Homo sapiens: one gene and its partner. The protein of the gene in region 2 purifies or fractionates together with the protein of the main gene of each other region. This does not show direct contact. Each region holds a gene or a part of one and is shown on either strand. Other genes may lie near its edges.

The links. The genes of interacting proteins can lie anywhere in the genome.
Region 1: the proteins of ZNF492 (region 2) and HPR purify together in Homo sapiens (affinity purification with mass spectrometry; one large-scale study listed by BioGRID and IntAct). This does not show direct contact.

The regions. Positions count from the first base shown.
Region 1 is NC_000016.10:72,061,951-72,066,025, forward strand, and holds the start of HPR (haptoglobin-related protein isoform 1 precursor), read left to right. Parts: upstream 1-1,275; 5' UTR 1,276-1,305; coding exon 1,306-1,310; intron 1,311-2,806; exon of another isoform or gene 2,807-3,044; intron 3,045-4,075. UniProt on the Homo sapiens protein: Primate-specific plasma protein associated with apolipoprotein L-I (apoL-I)-containing high-density lipoprotein (HDL).
Region 2 is NC_000019.10:22,658,324-22,661,823, forward strand, and holds part of ZNF492 (zinc finger protein 492), read left to right. Parts: intron 1-3,500. UniProt on the Homo sapiens protein: May be involved in transcriptional regulation.

The DNA.
Region 1 (4,075 bases), on a different chromosome or scaffold from region 2:
GTGCACCTTCTTCTCATGCCAAAATACGGCCCCTCCTTTGTAGGGTGTAAAACGACACTGATGTCACTCTCTCTCACCAAGGTCTGGCCATCTCTGTGAAGCTCTCCTCACAGGCACCCTGCAGATTCATCAATAAACTTCAACAGGTTAGCGCCAGTAGGCCAATAAGATGCACACTTATATTCTAGAACCTGTGAAAGAAGTAATAGCCAGAAACTGGAAAATAACAGTCAAACTCTTAAAAAAATGCCTCTCAGAACACAGTCACTTACACCTTTTCCTCTGGTAGTTCTCTTCAGCACCAAGTTTCCTGGAAGAACAAGCTACTCCCCAGTTTTCTTAAAGAATTGTCTGATTGTATTAAGTAAGTGGCTTCTGGTAAAATAATGGTAAGAGAAAAGCTCTGGCATTCTCTTGATCACTCATCTTCTCTGCCTTCCTCCCTAGCAACATCTCCTGGCCTCAGCCTGTGGGCTTCAGCAACACCAAACTCCATGTTGCTCTCTGACAAGCCCGGCCGTCTCCAGTTCTTGGGCTTTATTTCCTCGGGGGCCCTCTGCTGAAATTCCCTTCCCCTTGCTGTATTAGCACCTCCTACCCGCCTTCAACATGCAGGCACTGCCTCCTCTAAGGAGCCATCTGTACTTACGTAGCTGTGAGCATAGGATGGGGCATACAGCAGGCACTTAACAAATACTTGTGGAATGGAAAGAAACTAAGATAGGATCAAAAATACAAATCAAGATGTGAGAGAAAGACGATCAAAAGCCCTCACGAGGGGGCTGGGCGTGATGGCTCACACCTGTAATCTCAACACTTTGGGAGGCTAAGGCGGGTGGATCACTTGAGGGTGGGAGTTTGAGATCAGCCAGAGCAACATGGAGAAACCTCGTCTCTACTAAAAATACAAAAAATTAGCCAGGCATGGTGATATATGCCTGTAATCCCAGCTACTCGGGAGGCTGAGGCAGGAGAATTGCTTGAACCTCGGAGGTAGAAGTTGTGGTGAGCTGAGATCATGCCATTGTACTCCAGCCTGGGCAACAGGAGTGAAACTCTGTCTCAAAAAAAACAAAAAACAAAAAAGAACACCACGGGAAAATCAAGTGTGAAGCAAGAGCTCAACTCTTAACAGGGGCAATGTTTGGAGTTTTGTTACTGGAAAAGATAGAGACCTTACCAGGTCCAAAGTTTGTAGACACAGGAATTACGAAATGGAGAAGGGGGAGAAGTGAGCTAGTGGCAGCATAAAAAGACCAGCAGATGCCCCACAGCACTGCTCTTCCAGAGGCAAGACCAACCAAGATGAGGTGGGTCCACAGCTTTCCCTCCTGCCTTTCCTCTGGTTCTTTATTTCAGTCTTTTTTGCATACATTGGTACAGATGCAGAAATAGAACAAAGAAACAGGGCAAATGGGCTAAATTATAGTGAACCAAAGGGCTTAGTGTGTTAAATCTTCTCCTTTTCTGCATCCATAGAAGACAGTGCTGCTGTCTTTCCCAGGAGATAAGATTTACTCTCAGGAGTGTCTTTTTCCTTGAGGTTACGTTTTTGTCTTTGTAGGGTATGTCATCAGCTCCCGTGGTAGGCTTCCTGGCATTCGGAATATATTTACTAGCAGATATTTTCCTCTTTAAAAATGTATAATAAGAAAGACTAATAGTAACACATTTGAATGACACAATTAATTGACTAGTACTTGGGATACACACTAGTACCTGGGATACATCTAATTAAGACACTTAGATCTTAAAAAATAAAAAGACTTTTTGAAATGTTGAAATAATAAGACTAGAAACTTTTTTTTTTGTGAGACAGAGTCTCACTCTGTCACCAGGATGGAGTGAGTGGCGCGATCTCAGCTCATCGCAACCTCCCCCTCCCCGGTTCAAGCAATTCTCCTGCCTCAGCCTCCCAAGTAGCTAGGACTACAGGCGTGTGCCACCACGCCCAGCTAATTTTTGTATTTTTAGTAGCGATGTGGTTCACCATGTTGGCCCGGATGATCTCGATCTCTTGACCTCGTGATCCACCTGTCTCGGCCTCCCAAAGTGTTGGGATTACAGGTGTGAGCCACCGCACCCTGCCTAGAAACTATTTTAATAGAAGCAAATAGTGCCTGAATGGTGGGCGTCTGTTAGCGAGATGGTGAACTGGCAGATGGCGCCTGTGTGTCAATGCCCATGGCCACCGTCCTGCTTTCAGACACCAGTTCTCTTCCAGGTAACCTTCTGGCATTTTGGGGTTTGAGATACCATTTCCTAAAGGTGAATTATCACAAAATACTAGAAATAACCACATAAGTGTTTAAAATTATTGTTAAATACAGTAAGAAATTCTTCTTCAAAAGTTTAGCCTGCTTAAGTTTCCTTGTCCTTTGTTTCCTGCTTTCAAGGCCAGACTTCCTTACTCTCTGTGTTTCCCCTACCCTGGTAAACAACCTTCCTGCCAGTCCTTACCCATACAGCCCACATTCCACATCTGCTACCCACTCTGTGATTTACCTCTCCCGTCGCAATAGCCTCTCCCACCAAAACTGATCTTCCCGCCTTCCCACCAGTGCAACCACATTCCTGCACTTTGCAAGTTAGCCAACCGGGTTCGGATTGTGCAGTCCAACTCCAGCCAATGGAGTCAGGACACAGTAGCAGGGACAAGCTGCGTTAGACATAAAAACCTCTGCTTTCCTTTGTTTAGGGTGCTCTCGTGGCAACCAGACTTACCAGGAGCTCTATTCTGCAAAAGTAAATTTGCCTTGCTGAGAGACCCTTTGTCCTTTGGCTCAGTGTTGGTTCTTCTTTGCAGCACCGAGCATTTGTTTCCAACAAATTTGGTGGCCCATACAGGGAAAACATTGTCCTCCGGGAAAGGGTCTTTGATCACCTCTTGTGAGGAGACACATCCCACTGCCTTGTTGCAGTGGCCTCATGAGTAAGGAATCGAGACCCACCTGGTCTGATGAATAACCCCAGACTCTCAACAACGTGGGGAGAAAAAGACTTGCAACACTATGGTGGCCAGGTAACTCTGTGCGCAGACCAAGGTAAGAAATGTCGCAGGAGTGACAAAGTACTTCCTTGGTGGTCACTATATTCTGGTGGCTGAAAGTTCATGAATGGTAACAAGTGCTACTGCTGTGTGGAGTGAATGAGTCCAATCTGTGGGTCTATGGTTACCTCATACGGCTTAGCCTTCTCTGAAGGATCCTGATGTTGGGGTTTATATAGTCCTCCCAATGCTAAGCGGGACTTAAAATATTCCTAGGAGGAAAGTGGCCAGAGTGGATGAAGCAAAAGGAGAAGAGTGTGAAGAACCTCCAGGAGGTGGGGCTAAAAGATAGGCAAGAAATCTCTAATACGAGGGATTGAGCCACAGAAAGCTCCAGACAGATAAAAAAGAAATTCCTAATATGAGGAACTGAGCCACAGCAAGCCTCCAGCAGGCAACAAATCCCTAATATGAGGGATTGAGCCTAGCTAAGACCCAATATGGGAAATACCCCAAGAAAGACAGAGAATAAGAAGGATGAAAATAGTAACAAGGATATACCCCTTGATAGTCCCCTAGGTTTCATGTTAAAATACTGGAAAGATAATGAGAGGACTAAGCATAAGAAGAAGGAGCAAATGATAAAATATTGCTGTTTCATTTGGACCCAAGGTCCCATCCTCAAACCCTCAATCTTCTGGCCAAAGTATGGGTCGAATGAGGGTGTAATGAGTCAACTCCTAATCCAATATGTTAATGATAAAAGTCTGGTTTCTCAAGAAGAACTAGACTATGCTCTTTGTTGGAAGCAGGGACCTGTCCTCCTCTTTCCCTTAAAGACAACTAGGGAAGAATCCGATCCAGCATCTCAAATTGAGAAGTCAGACAAGCCGACTCCCACACCTAAAGTCAGCACATGGGATCCCCTAGACTGTCTTCCTTTGCTTACTGCCCCAATCCTAACCCCCCTACTCCTCAGGCAGCTGCTGCTGCCCCAGATCCCATCCCAGATTCTTCCCCAACTCATGATGTTCCTCCCGCTTACAACCCTGACTCTCAGGGGCAGTCGTCCCAAGAGCCTGTTCA
Region 2 (3,500 bases):
GGATTACTTGAACCTGGAAGTTTGAGGCTGCAGTGAGCTGTAATTGTGCCATGCACCCCAGCTTGGGTGACAGAGTGAGACCCTGACTCAAAAACACTGTACATTTCAGGCATGTTAAGTATATTTACATTATTTTATAAAAGATTTCTAGAAATTTTACAATACACATTAAACAACTACCAATTTTTCCCATTTCCTGGCACTTTTCAAATACCGTTCTGTTTTCTGTTTCTAAGAGTATAACTGCTTTATATATCTCATAAAATCTGTTTGTGGCTGGCTCATTTTATTTTGCATAAAGTCATCAAGATTTACCTTTATAGTTGTTAGAATATTTCCTGCTTTTTTTCAAACTGAGTAATATATTGGCATTTTTGTATTTCAAATTATATCTGCTGAACGATTTGGTGACCGAAATTTGCCTTGCTTTTACCTACTGGCTTTTAGTAACAATGCTAAAATAAATGTGGGTATGCAAATGACTCTTCATGTGACCATATATGTGAGAGTTTATATATGTGCTGCATTCTATTTTATTAGTCTACTTTTTCACCTTTATAGTCATACCAAATTGTTTTAATTCTGTAGCTTTGTGTTTTGAAATCAGGAACTGTAATGCCTCCAACATTGTTTTGTTTTGTTTTTAATATTTTTGGGTACTTTATTGTATGTAGAGATTCTGTATACTCGAGGGATTGCTGTTTCTGTTTCTTCAAAAATGCAGTGAGAAATTTGAAAAACATTGCATTAAATCTGTAGATTGCATTGAGCAGGATGGACATCTTTACAGTATTACCTTTTTCAGCCTTTCACAAGAGCATGCTCAAGAGTGTGTTGTTTAATTTCTATATATTTGTTAATTTTTCAGATTTTTTTTCTCGTTGTATACTCATTTCATTTTGGTGATAGAAAGTAATTTATAAAATTTCAGTTTTAAAAAAACTGGTAAGACTTAATTTTCTTCTTTTTGTAATAAGAGGAGGTCTATCAAGGAAAATGTTGTATTAGCTATTGAGAACCATGTGTGTCCTGGTGTTGAGGGGTGTTTTCTATACCTCTGTTAGAAATAATTGTCTTACACTGCCTGGAAGTCCTCTATTCCCTTACTAATATTCTCATTTAATTTTTATTACGGAAAATGCAGTGTCAAAATATCCTACTATAATTATGTTGCTCTCTATGTGTCTCTGTTATTCTGTCAATGTTTGCTTTATATGTTTGGAGCCCTAATGTGAGATACACACACACACACACACACACACACACACAGAGAGAGAGAGAGACGTGTATACAGATTTGTCATAGGTTCCCAGTGAGTAAATCTGAAGTGGTTTTTTTTTGTTGTTTTTTTTTTTTTTTTGAGACAGAGTCTCACTCTGTGTCCCAGGCTGGAGTGCAGTGGTGTGATCTCGGCTCACTGCAACCTCTGCCTCCTAGGTTCAAGCGATTCTCCTGCCTCAGCCTCCCGAGTAGCTAGGATTACAGGTGCCCACCACCATGCCCGGCTAATTTTTGTATTTTTAGTAGAGTCAGGGTTTCACCATGTTGGCCAGGCCAGTCTCGAACTCTTGACCTCAAGTGATCCACCTGCCTCAACCTCCCAAAGTGCTGGGATTACAGGCGTGAGCCACCATGCCCAGCCTAAATCTGTAAGTTTTAATGTCCTTTTTTGTCTCCTTGGAGTTTTAACTTCAAGTACATTTTGTAAAATATGATAGTTTTTGACTTAAGATGTAGCTTGCATAATACTATCTTGATTTCTTCTGCTCTCATTTGATTAATATTTGCATGAAATGTATTCTTCCATCTTGCCCCTTTTAGTGTTTTTTATCATTAGATCTCTACTGACTCTTGTAGAAAAAAAAGTTGGATCTTGGTTTTTAAAATTTTTAATCTGTTGAAAGTATGTCTCGATTTGAAAGTTAATTTTATATATACATTTAAATAATTGATAAAGACGGACTGTTACATTTTTAATTATTTTATTTGATTCTTGCATCTTTGTTTCTCATTTTCTCTCTTTGTGTCTTTTTGATTTTTGTATTGATATGCTTTTACTTATTTCTAATTCACTTTTGTATATTTGTACAGATTTTTTTTTTTGGTGGCACCTTGGGGGTTGCATAAAACTTCTATAAGAAACAACAGTATAGTTTTAATTTGGTATAAAATAAATCTCAGTTGAATAAAAAAATCTTCCTCATTACATCTGCCCTGAAATTTGTCTTTGATGTTGCTAATTATGTTTTTACATTGTATATTCATTAACAGTTGTTTATAATTTCTGTGCTTTTATTTTTCAAAATTTAGAGATCATTTAAAATGTTTTCTGCACCATTATGATAATGCCACAAGATTCTGTTTTTATGTATGTGCATATCTTTCCTGGAAAATAATGTATTTTTATATGATTATGTGTTTTTTTTTTTAATACTTTTACTTTCAGTTTAAGGAACTGCTTTCATCATCTTTTATATGTAGGGCATATGCAGTGCTAATATACTTTTTCAGAATTTGGTTGTTTTGGAAGGTTTTTTCTTTTTATGTGGCAGGACAGATTTGTTGATGGTATTATCCTCAACTTGATAGCTTTTTTTTTTTTTTTCCCCTCAGGACTTTGTGTCACACGGTATCTTTCTGATCTGCAGAATTTTTGTTGATAATTCACTGGTAATATCATAAGACTATGTTTGTAAATGACACATTACTTTTACCTTGTAGCTCCTAAGACTTTCTTCTTGTCTTTGATTTTTGAAAATGTGCTTAATATGTATCTGTTTAAATATCTGTGTGTGTATCCTAATTTGTTTGTTGAACTTCATTTTTACATCATTTTTCTTTTAGGATTTTCCAGTTGTTTATTTTTCTACTTTTTACCACCAAATTGTTTTTTTTAATATTTTGATATTCTTGTATTTATTCTCATTTTTGTGACTTTCTACAGTGGACTGTGTTCCTGTTTCACTCATTGGATATTATTCAACTTATGAGTGTTTAAAATGTGTACATCTTTTTTATGGTTTCTTTCTGAAGTTTATACGGTATTTTTGATGAAATTATATTGCCCTGTTTTGTATACATTGTAATCTTGGAATGAGATTTGGACATCAAAAAAAGCTACCTGTCACAGTCTTTAAAATGTGTTTTTTTCTGACATAGTCTGAAAACAATTATCTTGGCTAGAGATTCTGGGAGTCTCTCAAACATGTTCTTAGGATCTGCCTTGTCTAAAATTTTGTGTTTAGTTTTTAGTCAGAGGAGTTTATTTGTGTTTCTCTTCTTTTTTTTTTGAAACAGAGTTTTGCTCCTGTCACCCAGGCTGCAGTGCAATGGCATGGTCTCAGCCCACTGCAGCCTCCACTTCTCTGGTTCAAGTGATTATCTGGTCTCAGCTTCCCACTTAGCTGGGATTACAGGCATGTGACCCCATGCTCAGCTACTTTTGTATTTTTAGTAGAGACAGGGTTTCACTATGTTGCCCAGGCTTGGTCTCAAACTCC